Regions from separate parts of the Homo sapiens genome. Here region 1 is linked to region 2. The links come from fine-mapping of genetic effects on gene expression. A gene starts in region 2. The other region holds a variant in brackets. All regions are shown on one strand. Distances are between the middles of the regions. Region 1 has its middle 20 kb from the start of CDR2-DT. Region 2 holds the start of POLR3E (RNA polymerase III subunit E).

Region 1 (4,273 bases), 97 kb after region 2:
GGCAACTGTCGAGCTACTTTCTATCAGTATAGATTTGTTTACATTTTATAGGTTTTTATATAAGTGGAATCATACAGTAATGTACTATTTTTTGGTCTGGATTCTTTTGGTCATGTTGTGAGTATCCATATTTAATTCCTTTTTATTGCCAAGTAGTATTCTATTATGTGGGTATACCACAATTTGCTTTTTTTTTTTTTTTTAAATAATTCCTCCCCCTCCGCCCACGTTTTTTATCATTTCAACTTTTATTTTAGATTCAGGGAATATATGTGCAGGTTTGTTATGTGGGCGCATTGTGTGATGTTGAGGTTTGGGGTATGATTGATCCTGTCACTCAGGTAGTGAACATAGCACCCAATAGTTAGTTTTTTAACCCTTGCCCCCTGCCTTTCTAGTATTCCCCAGTGTCTATTGTTGCCATCTTTTTGCCATGAGTACCCAATGCTTATCTCCCACTTATAAGAGAGAACATGTGGTATTAGCTTGTCTGTTCCTGTGTTAATTTGCTTTGGATAATGGCCTCCAGCTGCATCCATGTTGCTGCAAAGGACATGATTTCATTCTTTTTATGGCTATGTGATAGTCCATGGTGTATATGTGCCACATTTTGTTTACCCAGTCCACCGTTGGTGGGCACCTAGGCTGATTCCATGTCTTCACTATTGTAAATAGTGCTACAATGAACAGGAGAGTGTATGTGTCTTTTTGGTAGAGCAATTTATTTCCTTTTGGATATAAACCCAGTAATGGGATTGCTGGGTCAAGTGGTAGTTCTGTGTTAGGTAGTTTGAGAAATCTCCAAACTGCTTTCCACAGTGGTTGAACTAATTTACATTGCCATCAACAGCGTATAAGTGTTCCCTTTTCTCTGCAGTCTATCTGTCTGTTGGTTTTTTTTTTTTTACTTTTAGCAATAGCCATTCTGATTAGTGTGAGATGGTATCTCATTGTGGTTTTGATTTGCAGTTCTCTGATGATTAGTGATGTTGAGCATTTTTTCATGATTGGCTGCTTATGTCTTTTTTTGAGATGTATCTGTTCATGTCTTTTGCCCACTTTTTAATGCAGTTGTTTGTTTATTGCTTGGTCAATTGCTTAGGTTCCTTATAGATTCTGGATATTAGACCTTTGTCAGGTGCATAGTTTGCAAGTATTTTCTCCCATTCTATAGGTTGTCTGCCTACTCTGTTGATAATTTCTTTTGCTGTGCATAAGCTCTTTGGTTTAATTAGGTCCCACTTGTCAATTTTTGTTTTTGTTGCAATTGCTTCTAAGGATTTAGCAATAAATTATTTCCCAAGGTTGATGTCCAGAATGGTGTTTCCTAGGTTTTCTTTTAGGATTCTTATAGTTTGAAGTCTTACATTCAAATCTTTAATCCATCTTGAGTTAATTTTTATATGTGGTGAAAGGTGCAGTTTCAGTCTTCTGCATATGGCTAGCCAGCTATCCCAGCACCATTTATTGAATAAGGAATCCTTTCCCCATTGCTTATTTTTGTTGATTTTATTGAAGATCAGATGGCTGCAAGAGTACAGCTTTATTTCTCAGTTCTCTGTTCTGTTCCATTGGTCTATGTGGCTGTTTTTGTACCAGTACCATGCTGTTTTGGTTACTGTAGCCTTATAGTACGATTTGAAGTCAGGTAATGTCACTGGCTTTGTTCTCTTTGCTTAGGCTTGCTTTGCTATTTGGGCTCTTTTTGGTTCCATATGAAATTGCAAATAGTTTATTCTAACTCTGTGAAAAATGATGTTGGTAGTTTGATAGGAATAGCATTGAATCTGTAGATTGCTGTGGGCAGTATGGACATTGTAACAATATTGATTCTTCCAATCCATGAGCATGGAATGTTTTTCCATTTGTGTCATATATGATTTTTTTCAGCAGTGTTTTATAGTTCTCCTTGTAGAGATCTTTCACCTCCTTGGTGAGATGAATTCCTAGGTATGTTAATTTTTTCTGTGGCTACTGTAAATAGGATCGCATTCTTGATTTGGTTCTCAGCTTGAACATTATTCATGTAAAGAAATGCCACAGATTTTTGTACATTGATTTTGTATCCTGAAACTTTACTGAAGTCATTTATCAGTTCCAGGAGTCCTTTGGTGGAGTCTTTAGGGTTTTCTATGTATAGAATCATATTGTCACCAAA[G/C]ACAGATAGTTTGACTTCTTCTCTTCCTATTTGGATGTAATTTCTTTCTTTCTTTTGCTTGATTGCTCTGGCCAGGACTTCCTTCTTTCATCTCTTGATGGACATTTGGGTTGGATCTGGTTTTTGGCTGTTACAAATAAAGCTATGAGCATTTTGTGTCTTTGTATGGATATATGCTTTCCTTGCTCTTGAGTAAATACCTAGGAGTAGAATGGCTGGGTTGTATGGAAGGTAGATGTTTACCTTTCTCTTTACTTTTTTTTTCCTTTTTTTGTTTGAGACAGAGTCTCATTCTGTCGCCCAGGCTGGAGTGCAATGGCGCAATCTCGGCTCACTGCAAGCTCCGCCTCCTGGGTTCATGCCATTCTCCTGCCTCAGCCTCTCGAGTAGCTGAGACTACAGGCTCCCGCCACCACGCCTGGCTAATTTTTTGTATTTTTATTAGAGATGGGGTTTCACCATGTTAGCCAGGATGGTCTCGATCTCCTGACCTCGTGATCCGCCTGCCTCGGCCTCCCAAAGTGCTGGGATTACAGGCGTGAGCCACCACGCCTGGCCGGTATGTAGTATCTTACTGTGTTTTTGATTTACATTTTCCTAATGACTACTAATGATGTTGAGCATCTTTTCATATGCTTACTTGCCATCCATGTATCTTTTTGGTTATTTATTAAAATAATTTGTGTCTTTTTAAATTGAGTAATTAGTCTTCATATTATTGAGTTGTAGGAGTTATTTGTATATTCTAGGCACATGTCTTTTGTCAGATATATGATCAGTAAATACTTTCTCTTAGTCTCTCTTGGTTACTAGTTGTTAAGAGAAGTATAGCCAAAAGATTTTAACAGTCATTTTTCTTAAGCCCTCACAAAAACATAGGACTTTCTATTGATCTCAATAAAAAATTATTATAAAATGGAAATCCAGGTCTGGCCCAATGGCTAACACCTGTAATTCCAGCACTTTGGGAGGCTGAGGCAGGAGGATTGCTTGAAGCCAGGAGTTTGGGACCAGCCTGGGCAACACAGCGAAACCCTGTCTCTACAAAAAATAAAAGAAAATCCAAAGTTGCTTGAAATTTATTCTTAATTTCTAGAGAATTAACACGTGTAAATTATTGTGGTAAAAAATGACAGCTTGGCCAGGCGTGGTGGCTCACGCCTGTAATCCCAGCACTTTGGGAGGCTGAGGTGGGTGGATCATGAGGTCAGGAGTTCAAGACCAGCCTGCCAAGATGGTGAAACACTGTCTCTACTAAAAATACAAAAAATTAGCCGGGCGTGGTGGTGGGTGTCAGTAATCCCAGCTAGTTGGGAGGCTGAGGCAGAGAATTACTTGAACCTGGGAGGTGGAGGTTGCAGTTAGCCGAGACGGTGCCACTGCACTCCAGCCTGGGTGACAGACTCTGCCTCAGACAAAAAAAAAAAATAATGACAGCTCATTGGAATCTGTTGTTCTTGTTATTCATTTGGCTAAGTCTCTTTAACACTTTATTGGATAAAATAATGAAGGGTGAGCACTATGTTTTCATTTTCTCTTTCTCTCTCCGTCCTCCCTCCCTCCCTTTCTCCCTTCCTCTTTCTTTCTTTCTTTCTTCTTTCTTTCTTTCTTTCTTCTTTCTTTCTTTCCTTTTCTTTCTTTCTTACCTTTTCTTTCCTTTTCTTTCTTTCTTTTCTTTCTCTCTCTCTCTTTTTCTTGAGACAGTCTCTCTCTCTCTCTCTCTCTCTCTTTTTCTTGAGACAGTCTCGCTCTGCCACCCAGGCTGGAGTGTGATGGCATGGTCTCAGCTCACTGCAATCTCCGCCTCCCAGATTCAAGCAATTCTCCTGCCTCAACCTCCCAAGTAGCTGGGATTACGGGCATGTGCCACCATGCCTGGCTAATTTTTGTATTTTTAGTAGAAATGGGGTTTCACCATGTTGGCCAGGCTCGTCTCCCAACTACTGACCTCAAGTGATCCACCTGCCTCGGCCTTCCAAAGTGCTGGGATTACAGGCGTGAGCCACCGCACCCAGCCCTCAGGCTGGTTTTCTTTTTGAGGAGTTGAATAAATAAAGGAGAAAAGGATGAATAAATACTCTGTCTCCCTAATAACTGTTGGTATAGGTCTGTCAC
Region 2 (4,273 bases):
CATACGTAAGACAAGGAGCCATGTGCAAGGATACTTCCTGCCATATTGTGTGTAATGACAAAAATTTAGTAACAACTTAAAAGTTGTACATGGCATGGAATGAATGAATTAGATCTATAGGCATCATAACAGACCTCAAAAACATAATGTTGGGCCTGGCACAGTCTCTCATGCCTGTAATCTTGGCTACTTGGGAAGCTGAGGTGGGAGGATGGCTTGAGCCCGGGAGGTCTAGGCTACAGTAAGCTATGATTGCACCACTGTACTCTAGCCTGGGTGACAGAGCAACACTCTCTTAAAATAATAATAATAATAATACTGTTGAAATGAGAAAAGCAAGTTTTAGGATATCAGTACAATGTGCTAACATTTATATAAGTGAAAAACATACAGATAACCATTTTAGATATTATTCATAAATTTTATAGTAAAAATGTAAGAAATTATTGGAAAGATACACATCAAATTCATGACAGTTATAGACAGGGGAGAATGGGAGGGGGACTTATTTCTATTTGCAATGGTCTAATAATTTCTATTTGTAATAGTGTGATCTATTTTTTATTTATTTATTTATTTATTTATTTATTTATTTATTTATTTATTTGAGACCGAGTTTCTCACTGTCGCCCAGGCTAGAGTGCAGTGGTGGGATCTCGGCTCGCTGCAACCTCCGCCTCCCGGGTTCAAGCAACTCTCCCGCCTCAGCCTCCCGAGTAGCTGGGATTACAGGCATGTGCCACCACGCCAGGCTAATTTTTGTATTTTTAGTAGAGACGCTTGAACCCAGGAGGCAGAGATTGCAGTGAGCGGAGATCGCACCACTGCACTCCAGCCTAGACAGCAAGAGCGAGACTCCACATCAAAAAAAAAAAAAAAAAAAAAAAAAAAAAAGAAAAGAAAAAAGAAAAGGAAAAAAATGCCACAATACTAAGTCATTAATTTAATGCCAGGTGGTGGCACTATGGATGATAATTTTTTTCTTTGTAATTTTTGTGCATTTTTGTTTTTAATATCTTTGCATATCCACACGGATAGGTATTTTAAAATACAGTCTGGTGAAAAATAACAGCCAATTGCAGATCTATATGAATAATGTGACAATATTTGTGTTCAAATCCATACACAATAAAAACAAAGCTATCTTCTATGGCTATATCTATATATATCCATATAGATATAAACATATAAATTCACAGCAAAAGATCTAGAAAGATATATAGTGTTTTAGTCCATTTTCTGTTGCTTATAACAGAATACCTGAAACTGGGTAATTTGTAAAGAAAAGGAAGTTATTTCTTACAGTTATGGAGTCTGAGAAGTCCAAGGTCAAGAGTGTGCATCTGGTGAGGGCCTTCTTGCTGGTGGGGGACACCTGCAGAGTTCCCAGGCAGTACAAGCCATCATATGGAGGGGGTGCTGAGCTGCTCCCTTGCTAGCTAAGGTCTCTCTCCCTCTTCTTATAAAGCCATCAGTCCCCCTCCCAAGATAACCCATTAATCCATTAACCCATTAATCCATGAATCCATGAAGAGATTAATCCATTCATAAGGGCTCCACCCTCATGATCTAATCACCTCTTAAAGGGCCCACCACACAATACTGCCACATTGGGGATTAAATTTCCAACACATGAAATTTGGGGGACACATTCAAACCATAGTTCATATTAAACAGATAATAATGGTTAGTTACCTCGGCGGAGGGGCCTAGGATGCGAGTCAAGGTCAAAGAGCATTTGTACCTTATCTGCAAAGTTTAAATATTTTGCAATAATTCGCGTGTTATTTGTGTAAGTAAAAATTTAAACATAATTTTTCAGAGACAACTGCCCAGACCAGCTCCAGGGTTTGGCCGTCAGATCCCCTGGTGCATGTTTCTGATCAGATCAATTTCTTCTCCCGGAGACACCCAATCCGGGTCGTATGGATTACCTGTGGGTTAACCAGGGGTCTCCGGGTTAACCATCCAACTCAGAGTAAAGTTTCTAAAAATGCGTTTTGCTCTAATACCTATTCGGAACCAACCTGGGTCTAAAGACTGGAGCAAGTGTTTATTTTCCAAAACACGGCTTTTTAAAATAATTCTATAGGGATCACCTTGAACACACGTTAAGCAAAAAAAAAACCTCAGCGAAAACGCCTCGCAATGTCCAGATTAAATGCAAAAGCAAAAGCATTAAGTAGCTTTCTGGCATAAACATATTGCAGCTGGGTAGCGTGGCCGAGCGGTCTAAGGCGCTGGATTAAGGCTCCAGTCTCTTCGGGGGCGTGGGTTCGAATCCCACCGCTGCCAGGGTTGCTGTCTTTTTGTCCCCGCTGCATACACTCCTGGCTCAGTTTTGCGCGTGCCATCAGCGCCCCCTGCTGCAGGGCGGGGCTCACGGCCTGCATGAATGGCGCGGCGGAGGGGGCGGAGCCGCGTGCACCGGGGCGGGGCATTGTGGGTAAGAGGAAACGCTGGGGCCGGCCCGCTCCCCCCCACGTGTCCGCCGGAGTTTCTCCACCAGCAACATGGCCGCCGCCTGAGAGGAGAGCCGGGCCGCCGCCGTCTCTGCAGCCCGCGGGTAACTGGGCCGTTGCCGCCGTCCGCGCTCGGCCCCCGCGGAGAGGTGAGTCCCGTCTTGGCAGTGCCCGAGCTGGGGCTTGAGCCGGACCGCACTCACGACGTGGGCCTGGGCTAGATTCCCGAGTAGGCCAAGGAGGCCCGCGCCGCGCTGTGCCTAGCAGCTGGAGGCCTCTCGGGACTCGGGCGGGGAGGAGGGGCAGCCGGCTCCAGGCCGACCCCGGACTCTGACTTCCTTGACCTGACACCTGGGAGTTGGGGAGGCCGCGGCCGACGCTGGCGGCGGTGACTCAGGGTCCAGCCGACCTGCCCTATCCGGGCCTGGGAGGCCTCCTACGGAAGAAACACCTGTCCGCGCGTCGGGTGTAGTGGCGGCTCGCGGCAGGGACTGCGTGGTGGGCGTGAGAAGGGGGGCCTGACCACCCGCGAGGGAGCAGAAACCCATTGGACAGCGAGGCTCGGGATCGGCGGCCCGCCCCGATGGGCAGGGAGGGCACCTGCGCCTGCCGGAGCCCCCACTTCGCAGCTGAACCGGATTAGCCTCTGCCCGGCGAGGCCAGGGATTCCTCATTCATTTATTCAGGCAACCATTCAGTGTTTACCGAGCCAACTCTGTGTTCCGGATACAGCCCTGACCATTCGGTCCGAGGAGGTGTCAGTAAACAAACAAGGTCGTTCCTTTGGGTTAGCTTTAGAATTCCTTGGGCTTGGAGGCGGAAAGAAGAGATCTTAGCGATCTCCACAGTTTCCTCATCTGTGAAATAGAGATAATAGAAATTCCTACCTCATAGGGTTGTGGTGACGGCTCAGTAGAAACCGGGTGACGCTCCTGCTTGCAGCGTTTGACTTGTGGCTTAGCGTCATTACCCGCTTACGTTGGCAGAAAACATGTTGTCAAGTAATAACAAACCTTCCCAGAGGTTACGTTTATTAGCGTCCTGTCCTTACTCCTTCCCCGCAGGGGTCTGGAGGTCGGTACTTAGTTTCCCTACTTTAGGGATGAAAATAGGGAGGAATACCAAACCCAGACAACTCAGGTGGGTCACAGATGCCAAGCAGCTGTGGTGGGATTTGAACCTGCACAGTTTTGTTCTCGGGTCCAAGCTCTTACCCACTTAACCATACTGCCGTTTATCAGAAAACCGTGCAGTATAGTGGTTAAGAATAAGAATAAGGATCTTTGACATAGCGAGACCCAAGTTTCTGTCCTCATTCCACCTTGGATGAGTTGCTTATATCTGAACCTCAGTCTCGTCATTTCCAAATTGAAGATGATAAATCTCTATTGATAGGGCTAATGAGAAGATTAAATATAAAGTATTCTTTGTACTATATTGAGTGTCAACTTCGTGCCAGGCACTGTTCTAGGTATTGAGAGAACCAGCACTGGATTTTTTTTTTAAAGTAATGCTCCCCATAACAGCTTTGATGAAGTAAAGTATGATTGTCTGCATTTCATAGTTGAGGAAACTGAAGCACTGAGAAGCCTTCATGGAGCTTACGTTCTATTGCAGAAGACAAACAACACCTGAGCAAATAGACCAGGTAGTTCCAGATTAAGATGAGACCCACCAAGGAAAGAAAACAGAGATGTGGTAGGGCCTGGGAGGAGGCTGGGGGAGGCTTTTAAAATAGGGTGGTCAGGGAACCTATCCTCTCCTGCAGGCGGTGATGATATTTAATAAAAAGGAGCAACCTTGGAAATCCC

The links. PIP is the estimated chance that this variant, and not a neighbour inherited with it, causes the effect.
Region 1: its variant is the best candidate, but not a certain one, in a credible set for the expression of POLR3E in whole blood (INTERVAL, PIP 0.61).

Annotation. Positions count from the first base shown.
Region 1 is chr16:22,392,332-22,396,604 of GRCh38, forward strand. It overlaps the pseudogene SLC68A2P. Among named protein-coding and RNA genes, the nearest start is that of CDR2-DT, 20 kb to the left of the region's middle. The variant G/C (reference allele first, on the strand shown) is at 2,159.
Region 2 is chr16:22,294,927-22,299,199 of GRCh38, forward strand. It overlaps POLR3E (RNA polymerase III subunit E), which reads left to right and starts at 2,483. Exons shown (of 21, transcript NM_018119.4): 1 at 2,483-2,611. It overlaps TRL-AAG2-4 (tRNA-Leu (anticodon AAG) 2-4), which reads left to right and starts at 2,214; the gene lies at 2,214-2,295. RefSeq lists silencers at 2,104-2,553, 3,564-3,703 and enhancers at 2,227-2,771, 3,214-3,353.